Regions from separate parts of the Homo sapiens genome. Here all the other regions are linked to region 2. Evidence: fine-mapped expression QTL. A gene starts in region 2. Each other region holds a variant in brackets. All regions are shown on one strand. Distances are from middle to middle. Region 1 overlaps C17orf99 (chromosome 17 open reading frame 99). Region 2 holds the start of TK1 (thymidine kinase 1). Region 3 overlaps TNRC6C (trinucleotide repeat containing adaptor 6C).

What was found. PIP is the estimated chance that this variant, and not a neighbour inherited with it, causes the effect.
Region 1: its variant is fine-mapped to the expression of TK1 in whole blood (TOPMed, PIP above 0.99).
Region 3: its variant is fine-mapped to the expression of TK1 in vagina (GTEx, PIP above 0.99).

Annotation. Positions count from the first base shown.
Region 1 is chr17:78,159,325-78,166,945 of GRCh38, forward strand. It overlaps C17orf99 (chromosome 17 open reading frame 99), which reads left to right. Exons shown (of 5, transcript NM_001163075.2): 3 at 1,631-1,930; 4 at 4,771-5,040; 5 at 6,565-6,973. The coding sequence ends at 6,722. Among named protein-coding and RNA genes, the nearest start is that of SYNGR2, 5.4 kb to the right of the region's middle. RefSeq lists enhancers at 586-745, 4,737-5,237 and silencers at 966-1,015, 1,056-1,105. The variant C/A (reference allele first, on the strand shown) is at 5,476.
Region 2 is chr17:78,182,143-78,189,545 of GRCh38, forward strand. TK1 (thymidine kinase 1) reads right to left here and starts at 4,910. Exons shown (of 7, transcript NM_003258.5): 1 at 4,787-4,910; 2 at 4,645-4,676; 3 at 2,913-3,023; 4 at 447-540. The coding sequence starts at 4,852. AFMID (arylformamidase) reads left to right here and starts at 5,220. Exons shown (of 11, transcript NM_001010982.5): 1 at 5,220-5,291. The coding sequence starts at 5,229. RefSeq lists an enhancer at 2,123-3,024 and a silencer at 5,063-5,202.
Region 3 is chr17:77,973,172-77,981,098 of GRCh38, forward strand. The region is part of intron 1 of TNRC6C (trinucleotide repeat containing adaptor 6C); the gene reads left to right. Among named protein-coding and RNA genes, the nearest start is that of TNRC6C, 18 kb to the left of the region's middle. The variant C/T (reference allele first, on the strand shown) is at 3,960.

The DNA.
Region 1 (7,621 bases), 23 kb before region 2:
AGACTCTGTCTTTAAATAAATAAATAAAAGTGGGCCGGGCGCAGTGGCTCACATCTGTAATCCCAGCACTTTGGGAGGCTGAGGTGGCCAGACCACCTGAGGTCTCGAGTTCAAGACCAGTCTGGCCAACATGATGAAACCCCATGTCTACTAAAAATACAAAAATTAGCCAGGCGTAGTGGTGGGTGCCTGTAATCCCAGCTACTCTGGAGGCTGAGGCACGAGAATCTCTTGAACACGGGAGGCGACAGTGCAAGACTCTGTCTCAAAAAAAAAAAAAAGTGATAATTCAGCAGCATTTAGTGCATCCATAGTGTTGCTCAACCACCACCGCTATCTAGTTCCGAGAGATTTTCATCACCCCAAAAGGAAACCCCGTATCTATTAGGCAGTTACTCCCCATTTCCCCCTCCCCTGGGCCCCAGTAACCACCAATCTGCTTTCTGTCTCTGTGGGTTCTCCTGTTCTGAACTTTGCACACACATGGAATCATGCAACCGTTGCCCTTTGCGTCTGCCTTTTTGTTTAGTGGAATGTTGTTACGGCTCATCCCTGTTGCAGCCTGCATCTGTGCTCATTTCTTTCTAAGGCTGAGTAATATTCCTTATATGGATCAACCACATTCTATTTACCCATTCGTCCATTGATAGATATTTGGGCCGTTTCCACCATTTGGCTGTGGTGAATCACGCTGCCATGAGCGTGTGTGTACAGGTATCTGTTTGAGTCCCTGTTTTCTATTATTTGGTGTATGTCTAGGCCTGGAATTGTTGAGTCATATGGTAAGTCTGTTTAACTTTTTGAGGAACCACTAAATCAGTATTTTCTTTCTTTCTTTTTTCTTTACTCTGAGGTCTACTGGTTTCACTTATTTATTTGTAATTTTTAGGTTCAGGGGTACATGTGCAGGTTTGTTATAGAAGTAAATTGCAGCCGGGCGCGGTGGCTCACGCCTGTAATCCCAGCACTTTGGGAGGCCAAGGCGGGTGGATCACGAGGTCAGGAGTTTGAGACCAGCCTGACCAACATGGTGAAACCCTGTCTCTACTAAAAATACAAAAATTAGCCAGGCGTGGTGGCACGCGCCTGCAGTCCCAGCTATTCGGGAGGCTGAAGCAGGAGAATCACTTGAACTCAGGAGGCGAAGGTTGTGGTGAGCAGAGATCGCGCCACTGCACTCCAGCCTGGGTGACAGAGCAAGACTCCATCTAAAAAAAAAAAAAAGAGAGAGAGAGAGAGAACATGCTAAACCCAGCATCCTTTTTCTTTTTTTCCTGAGTCTCCCTCTGTCGCCCAGGCTGGAGTGCAGTGGTGTGATCTCGGCTCACTGCCACCTGCCACCTCCGCCTTCCTGGTTCAAGAGATTCTCCTGCCTTAGCTTCCCGAGTAGCAGGGATTACAGGTGGGCACCACCACGCCCGGCTAATTTTTGTATTTTAGTAGAGACAGACTTTCACCATGTTGGCTACACTGGTTTTGAACTCCTGACCTCAAGTGATCCGTCCACCTGGACCTCCCAAACACTGGGATTACAGGTGTTTGCCACCGAGCCTGGCCAAACCAGTACCTTCTTAAGGTGCTTGATCAATGTCGGTTTCTTTCTTCCTCCTTGGACCTTTTCATCTCCCAGAAATTACCCCTGTGGTCTCCATTGCCTACAAAGTCCTGGAAGTTTTCCCCAAAGGCCGCTGGGTGCTCATAACCTGCTGTGCACCCCAGCCACCACCGCCCATCACCTATTCCCTCTGTGGAACCAAGAACATCAAGGTGGCCAAGAAGGTGGTGAAGACCCACGAGCCGGCCTCCTTCAACCTCAACGTCACACTCAAGTCCAGTCCAGACCTGCTCACCTACTTCTGCTGGGCGTCCTCCACCTCAGGTGCCCATGTGGACAGTGCCAGGCTACAGATGCACTGGGAGCTGTGGTCCAGTGAGTGCGGTGGGGGGCACAGGGCTGAGGAGGCAGGTGGGGTGCAGATCAATGGGGAGCTCTGGGAGTGGGGATTGTGAACCTTGCTGGGGTTAGAGAGAGCCAGGGTGTGAGGGTGTGGACAAGGACAGGCTGCCACCTCCAAGGCCATTCTCAGTCCCTTGGGGCCTTTAATCAGGACTTGCTGTCCCTGGCTGGGGCCCTGAGGGCACAGTCTCCTGGCAGGGGCCTGAGGGCACAGAGGGAAAGAGCCCGATGGTGGCAGAAATGACTGGGCCCCAGTTGTCAGCTCGGACCTCAAGGTGATAAACTAGGCACGTTTGTCTGGGCGCAAATCCCAGCACTGTGGGAGGCCGAGACAGGCTGATCGCTTGAGCCCAGGAGTTCGATACCAGCCTGGGCAACATGGCGAAACCCTGTTCCTACTAAAATTACAAAGATTAGCTGGGCGTGGCGGGGTGCACCTGTAGTTCCAGCTACTCAGGAGGCTGAGGCAGGAGAATCGCTTGAACCCGGGAGGCAGAGGTTGCAGTGAGCCAAGATTGCGCCACTGTACTCCAGCCTGGGTAACAGAGCGTCTCCAAAAAAAAAAAAAAGAAAAAGAAACGAAAAAAAAGTTAGGCACGTTTTGTGCATTACTTCGCTTGATCTTCACAGCAGTGTCAGGGGTGGGGTCTGAGCCTCTGGGTCTATAGCTATGTAAGCTAAAACTCTGGGGAGTTAAGAAAGTTGCCCCAGGGGCTGGGTGTGGTGGCTCACGCCTATAAGCCCAGCATTTTGGGAGGCCCAGGCGGGAGGATCACTTGAGCTCAGGAGTTTGAGACCAGTCTGGCCAACGTAGTGAAACCCCATCTCTACTAAAAATACAAAAATTAGCTGGGTGTGGTGGTGGGCACCTATAATCCCAGCTACTGGGGAGGCTGAGGCAAGAGAGTCACTTGAACCCAGGAGATGAAGGTTGCAGTGAGCCAAGGTCGTGCTGCTGCATGCCAGCCTGGGTGACAGCGTAAGACTATCTCAAAAAAAAAAAAAAAAAAAAGTCGCCCCAGGCCACATGGCTGGCAAGTGGCCAAGGCTGCTTTCAAACCCCACTCTGTCCAGCTCCAAACCCTGCCTTCTTCCTGTTTCCATCCTGATAGTAACTCAGGTAACCTTCTTGGTGGGAGCTATGGGGTATGGGAACCAGGAAGTGTTGCCCGACTTAGGGTGGGACAAGGAATCGCCCCATTCATCCTTTGGCCCGCACCCTAAGAACACCAGGAAAAGACAGCCTAGGGGAGATGAGCCCAGGATCTGCAGCCCAACGGGTCCAAGGTTCAAATCCCTACACTTACTGGCTGGGGTCTTGAACAACTCATTGGACCGCTGAGCTTCAACTGCTTTATCTGCAAAAGGAAAATAATAACAGAGGCCAGTGAGGTGGCTCACACCTGTATTCCCAGCATTTTGGGAGGCCAAGGTGGGAGAATCCTTTGAAGCCAAGAGTTTGAGACCAGCCTGGACCACAGAGTGATACTCTGTGTCTGCAAAAAAATTATTTTCTTTTTTTGAGATGGAGTCTTGCTCTGTCGCCCAGGCTGAACTGCAGTGGCACGATCTCGGCTCACCGCAACCTCCGCCTCCCAGATTCAAGCGATTCTCCTGCCTCAGCCTCCCGAGTAGCTGGGACTACAGGCCCTTGCCCCCATGCCGGCTAATTTTTGTATTTTTAGTAGACACGGGGTTTCACCATGTTGGCCAGGCTGGTCTCAAACTCCTGACCTCAAGTGATCCACCTACCTAGGCCTCCTAAAGTGCTGGGATTATAGGCGTGAGCCACTGCACCCAGCCAATAGCAATTTTTTAAAAAATTAATCAGGTATGGTGGTGCATGCCTGTCGTCCCAGCTACTTGGGTGGCTGAGGTGGGAGGATCATTTGAGCCCAGGAGTTGGAGGCTGCAGTGAGCGGTGATCACACCATTGCACTCTAGCCTGGGCAACAGAGACCCTGTCTCTAAAATAATAATAGGTCCTACTTCAGGGGACCTATTAAATGAAAGCCTTTTAGTAGGTGGCAAGTGTGGTGGTGATTACTCATCAGTAAGAATGTCTAGAGCATTAGGCTCAAGGCCTGGGGGATTCTAGAATCTTCTACATGACAGTTTTTGTCCTGAAGTAGCTTGCCTTTCAGTAAAAAAGACGAGACTGAATGATAGAGTTGCCAGATAAATTTTACATAGGACATACGTATAGTAAAAGATTATTCATTGTTTATCTGAAATGAAAATTTAACTGTATTTTTATTTGCTAAGTCTGGCAATCTGAAATACGCTACACAAGAATAAAACCAGGCCGGGCACGGTGGCTCACGCCTAAAATCCCAGCACTTTGGGAGGCTGAGGCAGAAGATTGCTTGAGCCCAGGAGTTTGAGACCAGCCTGGCCAACATGGTGAAACCCCATCTCTGCAAAAAATACAAAAATTAGCTGGATGTGGTGGTGCACACCTGTAGTCCTAGCTACTCGGGAGGCTGAGATGGGAGAATTGCTCGAGCTGGGGAGGCGGAGGTTGCAGTGAGCCTAGATCGCGCCATTGCACTCCAGCCTGGGCGACAGAGCAAGACCCTGTCTCAAAATAAAGTAAGAATAAGATAAAAACCAAATGTGAAATTGTGTGGTACACACGGCAGGTAGGGCAGCAGCCCAGACACAAGGTGGAGGGCAAACTCTAGAAGGCGGCCTGGAGGAGGCGGCAGCCACAGCTAAGCTCATTAGGCATTTTGTAATGAGGAGAACTTACTGAGGAGGAGGGGTTTAAAACCGCTCAGCCATGCCTGTGCTACCTTCTCCCACCCTGCCAGAGCCAGTGTCTGAGCTGCGGGCCAACTTCACTCTGCAGGACAGAGGGGCAGGCCCCAGGGTGGAGATGATCTGCCAGGCGTCCTCGGGCAGCCCACCTATCACCAACAGCCTGATCGGGAAGGATGGGCAGGTCCACCTGCAGCAGAGACCATGCCACAGGCAGCCTGCCAACTTCTCCTTCCTGCCGAGCCAGACATCGGACTGGTTCTGGTGCCAGGCTGCAAACAACGCCAATGTCCAGCACAGCGCCCTCACAGTGGTGCCCCCAGGTGAGAGGGCCCTTGGATTTCCAGAGGGGCAGCTGGCGCTTCTGTGCCGGGAGGGTGCTAGTGTCCAAGACACAGGTCGATGGGAAGTGGGACAGCTCTACCCGGCCACTGCTGAGAGCAGAGAGGGCACAGGAGGCAACCATGCCCACCCTGGCCCCTGCCTAAAGGAAGCCCAACCCAGCTGCCTCCGCCCCCTCCCAGGAGGGTTGCCCAGGGCACCCACCATCGTGCTGGTTGGCAGCCTTGCCTCCACTGCGGCCATCACCTCCAGGATGCTGGGCTGGACCACGTGGGCCAGGTAGGAAATGGGTGCTCGATGCAGGGAGGAGGGAGAGCTGCTGATGGCCTGAGAGGTCCAACCGGGCCCTGGCTGCAGAGCTCAGGTGGTGGGGCTTGCAGGGCAGGGCTGTGGCCAGGGCAAAGAGCGGCCATCAC[C/A]GCTTACGCATGACTCGAAGGTGTTTATGAGGACCTACTGTGTGCCATGTGCCTACTGAGGCTTACACATTCAAGGCGTTATCGGACCCTGACCAGTGCTCCCAGGTGCCCTGTAACACAGTCTGCTGGCCTCTGGGAGGGCAGTCTCCTAAGTTCTTTATGGGGTCTGAGCAGGGATTGCAGGGATGATGCCTCCAGGAGACCAAGGTGGACCAGGAGCTCCTGCCTTCTGTGAGAACCACCTTGGGCAGTCTTTCCGAGGTGGTGGCAAGAGCCTGGGGCCCAGCCTCCCAGGGTCCCCTCTCCAAGGCCATGGCTTTACTAACATGTAAAGTGACCAAGGCCTTTGTAGTGTCTGAGTGCAGGCACCACAGGCCTGTGTGCTCTGCCTGTCTGGCTTTGGTGGTGGCCAGCCCTGCCTCTGTGAACTCATCTCTCTTTGTTTGGGAGACACTGCCGTGTCCTGGTTCTCATCCTCTGCCCGTGGCCCAGGCCCTTACGTGGCTCTACCAGGAGTCTGTCCTTGGCACTTTCCCATCTCACTTCTACCAAGTCTGTTCTTTCCAGAAGCCAGACTCGTGGGTGAGCCATGTCACCTCGCCGAGCCTCAGTTTTTCCTTCTGTAAAATGGGGTACAGCCTTCATTTAGTGGGGTGAGTAAGCCTCATGTCTCTTCTGCTGGGGCACTGATGTGCTTGGCACCATAAAACTCCCAGAGGCAGGCCGGGCACAGTGGCTCATGCCTGGAATCTCAGCACTTTGGGAGGCTGAGGCAGGCGAATCACCTGAGGTCAGGAGTTCGAGACCAGCCTGGCCAACATGAAGAAACCCCGTCTCTACTAAAAATACAAAATTAGCCGGGCGTGGTGGTGCGCACCTGTAGTCCCAGCTACTCGGGAGACTGAGGCAGGAGAATCACTTGAACCCAGGAGGTGGAGGTTGCAGTGAGCCGAGATCGTGCCATTGCACTCCAGCCTGGACAAAAAGAGCAAAACTCCGTCTCAAAACAAACGAACACTCTCAGACGCCTCGGGAGGGGATGGCTGGGAGGTGAGCCTGCCTGACTTGAGTCTCCACTGCTTTGTCAAGGTGGTGACCAGAAGATGGAGGACTGGCAGGGTCCCCTGGAGAGCCCCATCCTTGCCTTGCCGCTCTACAGGAGCACCCGCCGTCTGAGTGAAGAGGAGTTTGGGGGGTTCAGGATAGGGAATGGGGAGGTCAGAGGACGCAAAGCAGCAGCCATGTAGAATGAACCGTCCAGAGAGCCAAGCACGGCAGAGGACTGCAGGCCATCAGCGTGCACTGTTCGTATTTGGAGTTCATGCAAAATGAGTGTGTTTTAGCTGCTCTTGCCACAAAAAAAAAAAAAAAAAAAAAAGGGTAACTATGAGAGATGGTGGATATGTTAACTTGCTTCGCTATAGGAACCTTTGTGCTATCTATATTATCTATATGAATCCCATCATATCAGGTTGTCTACCTTAAATATACACAAAAACATTTATTTAAAAAAAAGAAAAAAGCCTGCCAGCTGGGATTCTTGGAGTGCTGGTGGCCTTCAGCAAACACAGACACTGTTGGTGTGAGGGCTTCAGGAGGGTCACAGAAATAAGGGGGTCTGTGTGGCCCTGTCCTCGCCTCTCAGGTGCTGTCACATCTCTCTGGGTGTAGGGAGAGGGAGGGGGGCACACTGCGAAAAGGCCCAGCCCCTCCCCCCCACCTGCTCCCCTCTTCCCTGGAGAGGCACCCCACCTCCTGGTGGCCCAGTCCTATGGTTCAACTCTCACGTGGTCCAGCTCACCTGGGTTGACTGTGAGCCCCACCTGGCACACCTGCTGTTGTTAATCTGCACCTGCAACTAGCAAAGGGGGGTCTGGAATTCTTCCGGGTTCAGTCAGCCTGTGATCCCACACCTCTGTCTGTACAACCTCCGCTCCCCACTCCAACACACACAGAGCCTGCCCCAGCCTACCCTGCACCAGACCCTCTGTACCGGTTTTTCTTGGGATGGAGGTAGAGAGGGACGGAGGCGAGAGGGGGCTGAACTGGAACTGGATTAAACTTTGCCATCTGCCTGTCGCCCTGAAAACTTCATTTCTGTTTGCATGCCATATATATATTTTTTTATATGTGGTCTTTTCTTTTT
Region 2 (7,403 bases):
GCGGGGCGGATCACCTGAGGTTGGGAGTTTGAGACCAGCTTGACCAACATGGAGAAACCCCATCTCTACTAAAAATATAAAATTAGCTGGGCGTGGTGGCGCATGCCTGTAATCCCAGCTACTCGGGAGGCTGAGACAGGAGAGAATTGCTTGAACCCAGGAAGCAAAGTTTGCGGTGAGATTGTGCCATCGTACTCCGGCCTGGGCAACAAGAGCAAAACTCCGTCTCAAAAAAAAAAAAAAAAAAGTAAAACGAATCCTACAAGACTATGACACTATGACAGGGAAACTAGAAAGGGGCCTTCAGAGGGTATTCCAACACTAGTTGTAGCTATTTAACCTTGTTATTTTACTAAAAGATCAGATAACTTCCAAGTCAGCGAGGGAAAACGGGAGGACAGAGCGGAAGCTGGCAGGAAGAGTGATGCCAAGACAAGCCAACTTACAAACTGCCCCTCGTCGATGCCTATGACAGCCACGCCCAGGGCCTCCTGGGCCACGTCTCGGAGCAGGCAGGCGGGCAGTGCCTCCATGGTGTTCCTGGGAAGAGAAAGCCAGAGCGTGAGCAGGGCCAGGGAGGCCAGAAGCCACAATGCAGGGGCCAGGGAATGGCACTGTCGTGACCACCTGCTACCTGCAAAGCAGGCTCAGTGTTCACCCAGCCGGGCTTTGAGAAGTTAGCACCTATGGGAAAGGCCCTCGTCCAGAAAACCAGTTATTTATTTATTTTTTATGAAACAGAGTCTTGCTCTGTCACCCAGGCTGGAGTGCAGTGGCGCCATCTCGGCTCCCTGCAATCTCTACCTCCCAATTCTCAAGGGTCTCAAGCGATTCTCCCACCTCAGCCACAAGAGTAGCTGGGACTACTGGCACACACCATCACACCCAGCTAATTTTTGTATTTTTAGCAGACATGGGGTTTCACCATGTTGGCCAGGCTGGTCTCAGACTCCTAACTTTTAAGTGATCCACCCGCCTTAGCCTCCCAGAGGAAAACCAGTTATTTATACAAGCCACTTCACTTGATGCTTTGGATTAGAAATTAGTAATGTCCAGTACAAAGCTCAATGAGACTAAAAACTCTTCCACTGTTCAGGAGCTGGGGGCAGACTAGGCCAACTTCATCAGGTACCAGGGCCCATGATACCATTAGGGGCCAGCCAAATGTTTCCTTTTAAAATTCAGAAGAATGAATAACTAGAACTGGGCCTGGGTTATATTTGTCTTTATATTAATTATGTTGCAAAACATAAATTTTTAAAATCCTGTATTCTGGCCAGACACAGCAGCTCATGCCCGTAATCTTTGGGGAGGCCAAGACGGGAGGATCACTTGAACTCAGGAGTTCGAGACCAGCCTGGGTAACACAGCGAGACACTGTGTGAAAAAAATGTAAAAATTAACTGGGTGTGGTGGTGTGCGCCTGTAGTCCCACCTGCTCAGGGGGCTGAGGTGGGACGATCACTTGAGCCCAAGGGTTTGGGGTCACGTAACAGTAAGCTATGATTGAGCCACTGCACTCCAGCCTGGGTGACAGAGAGAGACCCTGTCCCAAAAACAAACAACAAACAAACAAAAAAACATACTTTACAACTATTGTTTCGTTATTACCTTGCTATAATCCTACTTCGAGTTCTGGAAAGAATGTGTGAAACAGTATTTTGGGCATTTTAAATTCCCTCTTCCCTCCCTAAACAGAGAAAGACAAAGTGAGGGCAGGTGGGAGGCCAGCTGTGGCCCCTGCAAGGGCAGCCTCTCGAGCCATCAATGCTGCTGGCCCAGCCTTGGCCTCTGTGGCCCGTGTTAGAGATGACTTGTGACACACGGGCAGAACTCATATTTAATCCCGGATCTGACTGACTCCAGAAGTTGTACTTCCAACAGCTGGAACGAAGTGACCTCCTCTGCTTTCCCTGTCCCCACCAGGTGTAACACCACCCTGTGCCGTGGACATCGCATCTTAGGAATGAGGAAGCAAATTTGGAAAAGTAAATGACCTACATCAGACAGCATGGTCACGAAGTGCGGTTAAATTCCCACATGCAACTCCAAGCCCCAAGCACCCTCCACTCCACCAGCATCTGGCTTCAGGAGCCCCTCAGCTCCCACCGAAGGCCACACGCCGGGTGGATCTGTTCTCTGCACAGCCATAGCAACTCTCGGATACAGCTCCCAGCCAGGGCTCTGAGGCTGAAGCCCTATAATGTGTGGCACAGCATGGCTTTGCCACTGGGTGCCCAGGTGGACAAGTCCAGAGGACCAAGCAAAGCGTCTCAGGCTCAGAAACATCAGGCCCACATCTGCTGCCAAGGAAGTGAATTTAACTCCCAAACTGAGGTTGCAGGCGGAAATGTCCAGCGAGCTCAAACAGCTACACATAAAACAGGGAAGCGTGAAGGCTGCCAGGTGACGGGGGAGCCAGCCAACAACGGACAACTAAAAAATTAAACAAAAATCAACGTGCAGGCCAAACCAAACCAGTCTGCAGCCTGTGTGAAGCTGAAACCCTACGGCAGAGTTTCTGAACACTGGCAGGCTCCTGACATTTGGGGCCAGCTCGTTCTTGCATGGGGGCCGTCCTCTGCACCATAGGACCCTTAGCAGCAGTGTCCCTGATTTCTACACATTAAAGCCCAAAAGCATCCCCTCCCCCCTCCAGTTGCAACAACTAGAAATGTCTTCAAACATTGTCAAATGGACCCTGGCGGCAAAATCACCCTCAGTGGAGAACCACTGGCTCCAGCCCAGGGAGTGGAGAGTGTGCGCTACCTTGCCAAGCACCTTGGAAAGTGTGCTGATTTGAATCATTCAATGTTCAAATGATTAACCATCCCCATTAAAGAGAGTCCTAACAGTGTGTCCTGTGCCTTGTGATTTTCCACTGGACAGGACTGCAGGGGGCAGGGACTGACCGGTCATGTGTGCAGAAGCTGCTGCTGTAGCGAGTGTCTTTGGCATACTTGATCACCAGGCACTTGTACTGAGCAATCTGGAAGCGACGGACGCGTCTCATCAACTCTGTGCTGCAAGAGGAGAGAGGGTCAGGTGAGGTCCACGGCGGGAGGAGTGGGAGAAGGAGACCCCTCCCCAACAAGCCTGGCTCCTCATTGTCCCTAGTGGTATGCAGACTGAGCCCACCACAGCCAGAAAAGAGCAGGGCAGAGCAGGCAGGGTATAATATCCCTACAAAGAGGGTTGGAAGTCAGAATTCTCTATGGGGAAGAGGTCCAGGAATGGTACTCAGGTGGTCCCAGGAAGTGTGGGAGGAGTAACCTTCTCCAAGATGTAGTGGGGAAGGCAGAAGCAAAGGCTACATGTAGAGGGAACCTGCGACTGCATTCCAAAGTAACCTCATCCCAGAGTTGTTCCCAGAGTTCAGAGTTTTTCTTTCTTTCTTTTTGGGGTGGAGTCTCGCTCTGTTGCCTAGGTTAGAGTGCAGTGGAGCGATCTCAGCTCACTGCAACCCCTGCCTTCCGGGTTCAAGAGATTCTCCTGCCTCAACCTCCCGAGTAGCTGGGATTACAGGAGGCTGCCACCATGCCCAGATAATTTTTGGTTTTTTTTTTCAGTAGAGATGGGGTTTTACCACGTTGACCAGGGTGGTCTCAAACTCCTAACCTCAAGTGATCAACGCACCTCAGCCTTCCAAAGCGCTGGGATTAAAGGCGTGGGCCACCACACCTGGCATACAGCTTTTCTAAATTAATTTCAGAAAGTCTTTGTGTGCAGCGTCAAAAGCACTTGCTTCTGGGTCCAAGAAGTCCAACTCTGAGCCACATCTTCCTGAGCAAGGGGTTTGAGCTGAAGTGATCCCCAGGGCCATAAAAGAATGTTGGGGCAGGGCATGGTGGCTAACATCTGTAATCCCAGCACTTTGGGATGCTGAAGTAGGAGGATTGCTTGAGACCAGGAGTTCAAGACCAGCTTGGGCAACATAGCAAGACCCCAGCTCTATAAAAATAAAATAAAATTAGCTGGGTGGAGGCGGGGGGGTGCACGCCTGTAGTCCCAGCTACTTGGGAGGCTGAGGTGAGAGAATTGCTTGAGCCCAGGAGTTTGAGACCAGCCTGGGCAACATAGCAAGATCCTACCTCTAGAAGAACAAAAACAAAACAAAAAGAATGGTGCGTGGGTAGTTTACTCAAGAAACTCACTAGCCCCACCCGGGTCAGGGAATGGTTCTATCACCTCAGGAGAGCAGAGGCTCCACGGCTTCAGACTCCTTGGTTTAGAAAGCGACTACGTTTCCTTGGCCTTAGAAGGAAACAGCCACATTGAATAGGGGTGTACAAAAAGGCCTGGCCTACAGGGGACACAACTGGTTGCCACCTTCTCAGAGGACTTGGTGGGGAAGACAGCTAAGCTGTAAGCAGCTGTCACCAGCTCCAGGAGGGAGTGGCGTCCACACAGGACGAGGGGCTTGGCCTGGGCAGAAGAGGGCAGAGACTTCCTCCTGGACTGAATTCAAGGGAGGAGCACCCCAGGCGGGAGCTGTAGGAGGCTGTGCTGGTCCTTCTAGGGGAAGGGAAGGGGAGGGAAGGGAAGGGGAGGGGAGGGGAGGGGAGGGAAGGGGAGGGGAGGGACGGGACAAGGGGTCCCCGGAGAAGAGGAAGGAGCTCCACCCCAGCCCCGCGAAGCCATTACCTTTTTCCTGAGAACATCGGCCCGAGAATCACCTAGGAGAGAAGGTGAGGTCATTTGAGGGCCCGCCCTGCGCGGATGCCTGGACACAGGCTATCACCACGACCACCTCATCCCCAGCCACGCGCAGGGCTGGCCCCCGCACCTGGATCTGCCCCCGGGTCTTGCTGGGGGAGCCAGGCAGCACAGTGGGCAGGTTAATGCAGCTCATTGCGCCTCCGGGAAGTTCACGAACCCGAGTACTCTCCAAGGCCGTCCCGCAGTAAGCCCCTGGTTCCCGCGCCGACCGCTTTAAACCACGGCGTGCTGGCCAATCACGAGCCGGCCCCGCCGCCATGGGGCCAATCAGCGCCCGGCCGCTGACCTGGCGGGAGATTTGGCCGCAGCCCGCCCCCTCGTGGGAGGAATCCGGGACGTGCGCCCAGGGACTGGGAGGGCCTGGAAATCAGGGCGATGGACGTGGCTGATCGGGGTGGGGCCTGGTCTGAGCCCCGCCTCGGTCCGCCCACCAAGTTTAAAGGGGCGGAGCGAGGCGGGGCTCTGGCCATATAAACAGAGGGACGCACGCCCATGCGGCTGTAGACGCCATGATGGATGTGTCTGGTGTGGGTTTCCCAAGCAAGGTTCCTTGGAAGAAGATGTCTGCAGAGGTAGGTGGATTGCAGGGAGGGACTAAGGGGCTGGGGCGGAGTTAGCTCATTTATTAGATTGGAATTCCAAGAAGGAAGCTTAGAAGCCGTCTAGAGCACTCCTGTGGGCATGCAGAGCGCCTAGTGCGTGCCAGGTCCCCAGTGCTTGAGCACCATGGTGTATTTTACCTTCTCCTAAGGATTTTTGTTAACCTGGTTTTCAGGATAAAGAAAATTGAAGTCCTGACTATGCTAATAATATCCGTAGACCCTGCCAGGCGTGGCGGCTCACACCTGTAATCCTAGCACTTTTGGCGGATCACGAGGTCAGGAGTTCGAGACCAGCCTGGCCAACATGGTGAAACCCCGTTTCTACTAAAAATACAAAAATTAGCCGGGCGTGGTGATGTACCTCTGTAATCCCAGCTACTGGGGAGGCTGAGACAGGAGAATCGCTTGAACCCAGGAGGTGGAGGTTGCAGTGAGCCGAGATCATGCCATTTGTACTCCAGCCTGGAAGGCTGGGCGATAGACCAAGACTTAGTCTCAAAAAAAAAAAAAAAAAAAAAAAAAAAAATCCATAGACCCGCAGGAGGTTAGGGGACAAAGTTCTGGACCTTGATCTGAGGTTACACAATGTTTTTGGGTCTGTGCTTATGTGGCACAGGCTGAAGGATTCAGAACAGCTGGTATTTACATTGGGGTTGTGAAGGTTAGAAACATACAGGCCGGGTGCGGTGGCTCAAAAAAAAAAAGAAAGAAAGAAAAGAAACCCATTGTATAATCATGATCATAAATAATAGCAACAAAGATGGTGGTAGTGATCACAGAGTGTGCCAGGTGTGGCTGTAAGGATCCTACAGGTAATAACCTTTCCAGGTACAGATTGGACAGATCCAAGGACCTCTGACAAAGAGCTCCTTCACTGGGAGGAAGAAGCAACCCACACTGACTGGCTTGCTTTATTTTACTCGCATGCTTTATCTCTTTTAACCTTGTGATTTGGATACATGCCTTCTTTTTTTGAGACACAGTCTCGCTCAGTCACCCAGGCTGGAGTGCAGTGGCATGATCTCGGCTCACTGCAACCTCTACCTCCCGGGTTCAAGTGATTCTCCTGCCTCAGCCTCCCGAGTGGCTGGGATTACAGGCACACTGTAGCTGGTACTACATGCCTGGCTAATTTTTTTTTTTTTTCTTTTGAGACAGAGTCTCGCTCTATCGCCCAGGCTGGAGTGCAGTGGCGCGATCTGGGCTCACTGCAACCTCTTCTTCCAGGGTTCACGCCATTCTCCGGCCTCAGCCTCCTGAGTAGCTGGGACTACATGCGCCCGCAACCATGCCCGGCTAATTTTTTTGTATTTTTAGTAGAGATGGGGTTTCACTGTGTTAGCCAGGATGGTCTCCAACTCCTGACCTCATGATCCGCCCCCCTTGGCCTCCCAAAGTGCTGGGTTTACAGGCATGAGCCACTGCGCCTGGCCAATTTTTGTATTTTTAATAGAGATGGGGTTTCGCCATGTTGGACAGACTGGTCTTGAACTCCTGGCCTCAAGTGATCCACCCGCCTCGGCCTCCCAAAGTGCTGAGATTACAGGTGTGAGCCACTGTGCCGGGCCTGGATAGATACCTTCTACCAGTCAGGAAACTGAATCTCAGAGACTAAGTAACTTGTTGAGGATAAAACAGTAAGTAAGTGAGGGAGGTCAGATGGCATTTGACCTCAGGCCTTGCCATGAGGCTGCCCTGACTTCCCATTTCTCATGATGGTTTTGAGCCCTTTCTTCAAAATCTGGTTCCTTGTTACTTTTTTTTTTTTTTTTTTTTGAGATGGAGTCTCGCTGTTGTCACCCAGGCTAGAGTGCAATGGTGGGATCTCAGCTCGCTGCAACCTCCACCTCCCGAGTTCCAGCGATTCTCCTGCCTCAGCCTCCCGAGTAGCTGAGATTACGGGCGCCCGCCACCATGCCCAGCTAATTTTTGTATTTTTAGTAGAGACGGAGTTTCACCATGTTGGCCAGGATGGTCTCGAACTCCTGACCTCAGGTGATTCACCCGCCTCAGCCTCCCAAAGTGCTGGGATTACAGGTGTGAGCCACCACGCCCAGTGTTTTGTTTTTTTTTTTTTGAAAC
Region 3 (7,927 bases), 210 kb before region 2:
CTGGGATTACAGGCGTGAGCCACTACGCCTGGGCAATACACCATATTAATAGATGAAGAACAAAACCACATGATCATCTCAATAAATGCAGAAAAAGCATTTGACAAAATCTAACATTCTTTCATGAGAAAAACTTTCAACAAATTAGGTATAAAAGAGAGCTGCTTCAACTTGATAAAAAGCACATATATGAAAAACCATACAAAACACAGTAATATTATACGGAAGAGTGAATGACGGAATGCTTTCTCTCCAAAACTGGGAAAAAAAGAATATCAGTTCAATGCTATTCAGCACTGATCTAGAGCTTCTAGCCTATGTAGTCAGGTAAGGGAAAGTAATAAAAGGCACCTGGATTAGAAAGGAAGCGGTGAAACCGTCCTTATCCACAGATGACATAACCCTGTGTATAGAAAATCCTTAGGAATCCACAAGAAAGGTTACTTGAACTAGTAAATAAGTTTAGTAAGGTCACAGCTTACAAGACCAGTGTTTGAAAATCATTTGTGTTTCTTGATGCTGGCAGTAAACAATCTGAAAATGAAATTAAGAAAACTCATTCACTATAACATCAAAAGCAACTAAATCCTGGGGAATAAATTTACAAAAGAAGTGAAGATGTTTACACCGAAACTGCAAAAACATTGCTGAGAGAAATTAAAGAGGATCCAAATAATTGGAGAGACATTCTGTGTTGATGGATGGGAAAACACAATATTGTTAATCTGGCACTCTACCTAGATTGATCTGTAGATTTGATGCATCTCTATCAAAATCCCAGAAGGCTTTTGTTGTTGTTGTTGTTGTTGTTTGTAAATTGACAGGCCAATTCTAAAATTTATGCAGAAATGCAAAAAGACCTGGAGAGAGGGAGGGAGGGAGGGGGAGGGGGGAGAGAGAGAGAGAGAAAGAAAGAAAAAGAATGGAGGTAAAACAGAACATGAAAAGTTAAAACAGGCTGAAGGAAAATATTTGCAAATCATAAAGCTAGTAAGGGACTTGTATTCAGAATATATAAAGAGCTCTCGTAACTTAATAATAAGACAAAGTACCCAATTTTAAAATGGGCGAAGGATTTCAATACACATGTCACCAAAAAAGATATACAAATAGCTGATAAACAGATGAGATTTCTTGCTATGTGTCCATTCAAATTTTCCATTTTTCCTGCATTGATTTTGTTAATTTGTCTATTCCTAGGAATTTGTACTTTCATCTAAATCATCTTTTGTTGGCATAAAGTTGTTTATGGTACCTACCTCAATTCCTGTAAAATCAGCAGTCATGTCCCCTCTTTCATTACCACCCCCGCCCCGCCCCAAAAAAAAAGTAAGAGGGAGAGATGGAGTCTTGCTGTGTTGCCCAGGCTGCCCTTGAACTCCTGGGCTTGAGAGATCCTCCCACCTTAACCTCAAGAGTAGCTGGGACTGCAGGCACGTGCCACTGCACCCTACTTGTGTATGTTTTTGGTTCATTTCGTTTTGGGTTTATATTACCATTGTTATTCAATGTTATGTGTAGTCAGGGTGATAATAGATTAGCAACAACAGTGCTATTAACAGGTATTATGTCTTGTTTCTCTGCTATGTTTCCAAGAACAAATCTTAACTCATTGAGTCTGTTCAAAATTCACAGTTCTGTAGAGTTCACCGAGGAGAAAACAGAGACCTAAAGAGGCAGTGTGACTTGCCCAAGATCAGGTAGTCCTGGGTTCAAACCCAGGTTTTGCAGAAAACTAATTCCATGCCTTTTGCCATAGGTAAATGAGCAAGGGAAAAAACAATTTGCAAAACAAATTTGTAAACAAACATCTTTAAAATGTATCTTTCTAGTAATCAAAGAAAGAAATAAGCCAGATTAAAAAAGAAACATTCAGTTGAGAAAACTTAAATATGATACTGAGGAGGATGAGAAAAGAAATTTCTTTAAGTCTCATGTATGGGGGGAAAAAAATTCTTCCATGCATCTTTTGCTGGTGGCCATGAAAACAGGTGTAAATACCTTCAGGTGGTGAAAATAATAATGTACATCAAAAGAATCAAATACGTTATTACCTTAGGAGGTTTTTTTTTAGCATCTGTATTAAGGTTTTTTTCTGATATACATTAAACTGCACATATTTAAAGTATAACATTCAATAAATGTTGATATACATATATATCTGTGAAACTACAGCCACAGTCAAGATAATGAGCATATCCACTGAGGTTGAGTGTTGAAATGTGCTGGTGGGAGGGCAGATGCAGTGTGCTGGAGGGAGAAAGAAGCCAAATTGTTAAAACTGGGCAACTGGTGGAAAGATGGTGGTGGAGGGAATGGGGAGACCTCCCTTATAATTTTGCCTATAAAGGCAGCTACACATAGCAGTTTTAAAAATATTTGTCATTCATGTAGGAAGGTAATCATTTCTTAAATATTTAATCAAACATTTTTCTTTTTTGGGTAAAATCTGGTCTTTTGAAAATATGAAATAGCATTGTGATTATGAGGCTTTGGGACATCATGTAAGAGTAAAGGTTCAACAACAGAAGTGGAAACTAATTTACAGTTGCCATCTTTTACTCTTGCCACATAAGACTTGAATAAAAAGTACCATGATATACTTTTATCATTACTTTATAAAGTAAAGGACTTTCTCATGCAAAGAAGTGGAAAGGATACCATCTTATAGGAGAATCCTATAAATTGAATAAATGCATCTTTATGAAAAATGTAGGTCGTCTTTATTTTTCTCATTCCATGGTGTTATAAAACTTTCTCAACTGATCATGGTCTTTAGAGTGAGTTGTCAACTCTGGGCTAGATTTCTAGGAATGCCACTTATTAGCTAGGTGACTTTGGGTTTAATTTTTATTTTCTCTGAGCCTTTGTTTGCTCAGCTAGAAGAAATGAATAATAATATATACTATTACAGGATTATTGTAAGAATTAAATGAGATAGTATGTAAGTTTCTCACATTGTAGGCTCATGTTATCTTCCTTATATTCAGCCCTGCGTAGTCTGTTTCTCACTATCACACATTTGCTCTTTAATTACATATTTGTGTATACGTTTCTGTAATTTCAAAGAAGTGAGTCAAATTTAACCCTATCATAGACATGACTATAGTAATCATTTTGGTATGTTTTATAAGGTGGGTGAGGGAGGTTGTTTTGCCCTGAAAACATCTACAAATGCTAGCATATAAAATTGAGCAAAAGATGTGGGATAGAGATTGAATTCATATTCTTTGTGAAGACTATTAGGATTTGTTCTTGTGATGATCAGATTGTCAGTTCAGTTTACTGTATTTCACACACAGTAGCCCCAGTTAGGGTTCCAGAAATGCTTATAAATTTGTCTCCTGTGGTATTATCTTAATGTGGTGTTGGATTCTTCATCGCTGAAGTCAGCTATTCAGGTAAAACTTTATTTGGTAAGATCAGATACCTAAGCAATATATAGTCACTAAGTCACTTCATATATAAAACTTGGGGCCGGATACGGTGGCTCATGCCTGTAATCCCAGCACTTTGGGACGCCAAGGCAGGTGGATCACCTGAGGTCAGGAGTTAGAGATCAGCCTAACCAATATGGTGAAACCCCATCTCTACTAAAAATACAAAAATTATCTGGGCGTGGTGGCAGGTGCTTATAATCCCAGCTATTGGGGAGGCTGAGGCAGGAGAATTGCTTGAATCCAGGTGGTGGAGGTTGCAGTGAGCCAAGATTGCACCATTGCACTCCAGCTCAGGCGACAAGAGCAAGACTCCATCTCAGAAAAAAAAAAAAAAAAAAAAAAAAAAAAACTTGGTTTCCCCTTCATTTTACAGGTATGTTAAAGAGGAAAAAAATAGAATGCTTAACATGTTGCTACTTGTGTACAAATTGTATTAATCATTATATGATAAATGTTTCCAGATGGTATCTATTTTATGGTACTTAGACTTTCTAACTTTTATAATGATTACTATATATA[C/T]GTTTTCTTTCTCCTACTAGATTATAAACTCCTTGAAGGCAGGATTCATGTTTAGTTTATCTTTTCATAAAACTTAGCTGTGTGTATTGATTTATACATATGTATTTAGTAAATATAGCTTGATTAATTGAATAAATCTTCATATGTAGTAGATTTCTGTATTGACTTCTGCTGGTATAAATTTTCTCTACAAAGTTTGATGAGATAGGAGTGATGGGGAAAATATGAAGAGCATTAATGTATCATTTTCATTTCCACTAGTATCTTTGCTAGACCCCTAATCTCCAGTAGTTAAAGCTTTGGGTTATGAAAAGGAACTCCTTGTCTCCGAAGTGGTAGATATTTTTTATGATATGTTGCAAAACAAAAAGACAACTTTTTAGTTCAGAAGGGAACCAGCATTTATTAAGCCCTAGCTATGTGCTAGGATAGGATCTTTTAAGTAGTCCCAGATCCCTTTGAGAATTCAGAAAACCTAAATAAAACAAGAAAGAAATTTTAATTATAAAAGAATTATCTCCAAAAAGTTTCTCCTTTTCAACCTTTCATGCTTTTAATATTTACTATGTAAATTGCCTAAGAACTTAAAAAACAGGGACAGCTTTCCAGTTTATTTTATGAAGCTAACATACCAAAGACACAAAAAATGATAGGCAAATATCTAACTTTAGATTTTTGTCACATAAGTGTATGTGAGACTCTTAAAATAATTTACCAGAAAGTGTAATTCATCAGTATCAGTATTTTTTCTTTAAAACCTCTTTTTTTTTTTTTTTTTTTTTTGAGGCAGAGTCTCGCTCTGTCGTGCAGGCTGGAGTGCAGTGGCGCAATCTCGGCTCACTGCAAGCTCTGCCTCCCAGGTTCATACCATTCTTCTGCCTCAGCCTCCTGGGTAGCTGGGACTACAGGCGCCCGCCACCACGCCCAGCTAATTTTTTTTGTATTTTTAGTAGGCACGGGGTTTCACCATGTTAGCCAGGATGGTCTCGATCTCCTGACCTTGTGATCCACCCGCCTCAGCCTCCCGAAGTACTGGGATTACAGGCGTGAGCCACCGCGCCCGGCCTAAAACCTCTTTCTAAAGAGAATTTGAGACAAATGCAACAGCATATTAAAACAATAGAATAGTAGAAGTAAGGCTTATCTTTAGAATGCAAAGAACTCTACTAATATTCCTCCACATTGGTAGATCAAGGAAGTAAATTCATAAGATTATCTCACTTGCTACCTGTAAGGTCATATAGTAAAGCTCAGTATTATTTTGGGTGTCTGCTTCTGGCTAAGACAGACTAGCCAGTGTCAGACCAACCCTGCCGCCGGGAACTAAAATGCTTAGGTAAATAATAAAAAGCAACTGTTTGAAGGTATTAGAAGCTACTAGGACACTGAAGACTTTGAGGCCAAGATCCTAGAGAGAAGGGAGGTCTAAAGAGGCAGAATAAACATTTGGTGCCACATGACCCCTCAGAAGCATTTGCCAGCTTCAGTGCTAGGACTGAAAACCTGAACAAAAAGCTGAGGTTGAGCAGCTAAGCAGAGTTTTCAATAGATGTCAGAGGCGGGGGTCACAAAAACGGGAGTTCAGGGATGACAGACCCTGGTAAACATCCCAGGCTTTTGGTTGGAACCACCCTTCTTACCCCCTAAAAACCCCAACTTTTTACCCTAGGTGTATGGTGAACCTAAAAATTTTCCTGAAATCCAGCCCTCACAAAACACAAAAACTTAGTTTTGAATTGGCTGAAATAGATTAAAGTGATTCACCCTTGCTCTTAAATGCTTGTCAGAAGCAAAACTAAATCCTCTCTAGAGGAAGGTAACATTCACAGCCTCAGCCTATCTCCACAGTTTTGTGCATGCAAGATTAACATTCAGTCAAAAACTAAGCATATAAAAAGAGGCAGGCGATAAGGTTACCCACAGGAGATCTAGATATTAGGGTTATCAGACATGGACCTTAAGGTAATGTTGATAAATATGTTTAGTAAATTAAGTGACAAATGGAGGATTTCAGAAAGAACTGGACACTATTAAAAAAGTTAAATGGAAATTCTGGAATTGAAAAGTGCAATATAGGGTGACAATAGTTTACAATAATCTTTTGTATATTTTAAAATAGCTAGAAGAGAAGAATTTGAATTTTTTAACATAAAGACATTTAAGGTGATGGATATCCCAATTACACTGATTTGATCCTTACAAATCATATGAATGTACTAAATTATCACATGAATCCTGAAAGTATGTGTATCTGTTATGCATCAATTAAAAATTAAAAAGAACTTTTAAAAGTGCAGCAACTCAAATTAGGAATTAAACAGGAGGGTTTAATAGTATTCTTAGCTGAAGAAAAAATTAGTAAACTAGAAGATAGATCAGAAGACAATATCCATACCAAAGCACAGAGAGACAAAAGGATGGAAAATGAAAAGAAAAAGAAAAATATGTAAGAGACAAATGGGACACTGTTAAAAGTCTAAAATACTTATAATTGGAATCTCGGAGAGGAGAAAGAATAGGTCAGAAGCAATAGTAAAAGACATAATAACTTGAGAATCTTCCAAAACTAATACAGACTTGCATATTTGAGAATCACTGTAGCTCTAAGCAGAATCAATACCAAAAAACAAAAATAAAGGGAAAAGAGAGGAAAAATTGCCAAAACAAAGAAAATCTTAAAATCAGCCAAAGGAGGAAAAAGATACATTACCTTCAAAGGAGCGGCAGTAAAGACGGACAGTCTACTTTGCAAAGAAATGGAAATCAAAATACAGTGGAACGATATCTTCAAAGTGTTGTAAGAAAATAACTGCCAACCTAGAAATCTGTATGAAGCAAAAATATCTTTCAAAAATGAAGTGAGAATATAGACATCTTCAGACAGACAAAAATTAGAATTCATCACCAGCAGATCTACACTAGAGGTACTATAAAGAAAGTTCTTCAGGTAAAAGGAAAATTATCCCAGCTGGAAGCATGGAGATGCAGGAAGGAGTAAAGAGCACTGGAAAGGATAGATAGACGAATACATCTAAAATAATGTGAACTGTGTAAAACAGTAAAAATATTGATAGGTGCAGCAAACCACCATGGCACACGTTTACCTGTGTAACCTGCACATCCTGCGCATGTACCTGGAACTTAAAAATTTTTAAAGTAAAAATAATAAATGGCAACAGCAACACAGAAAGCTGGAAGAGAGTTCTGATGGGGGAAAAACACAGGTTATTTTTCCTCGGCTCTCACTCTACAACAGTGATCATCACAGAGGACTTCTTTGACCAAATGTGTGGATTTCTCCCCACGTGCCAAGCAAGCAGTCAGTTCTGCAGTGGACACCAGCTGGGTCGGTCTCAACACAGAAGACTTCTGTGAGCAAATGTGTGAGGGTTTCTTCTCACACATCAAACAAGCAAGGAGTTCTGCTGTGGATATCAGGTGGGTACCCTCCAATTCCATTTCAACATTATCTACCTGGAGATAACTCAGATCTCACAGGTTGAAGACTCAGTCTCCAGGACTGTCCCTCCTTGAGACACCAGTTGCAAGTCTGGGCCTCCAGAACTTCTGACCCACTAGCTTCAAGTTGGGATTCCCACCACCCCTCTTTGGGTTCAGTTAATTTGCTAGAGTGGCTCACAGAACTCAGGGAAATAATTACGTTTACCAGGTTATTACAAAGGATATTATGAAGGAAACAGATGAAGAAATGCCTAGAACAAGGTATGGGGGGTGGGTGCTTCCATGCCCTCTCTGTTGCACCGCCCTCCTGGCATCTCCATTTGCTCGGGCATTTGGAAGCTCTCCAAACCCAATCCTTTTGGGTTTGTTTTGTTTTGTTATGTTTTTTGGTTTTTTGGTTTTGGAGGCAGTCTCACTCTATTGTCCAGGCTGGAGTGCAGTGGTGCAGTTACGGCTCACTGCAGCCTCAACCTCCTGGACTCAAGCCATCCTCCCACCTCAGCCTC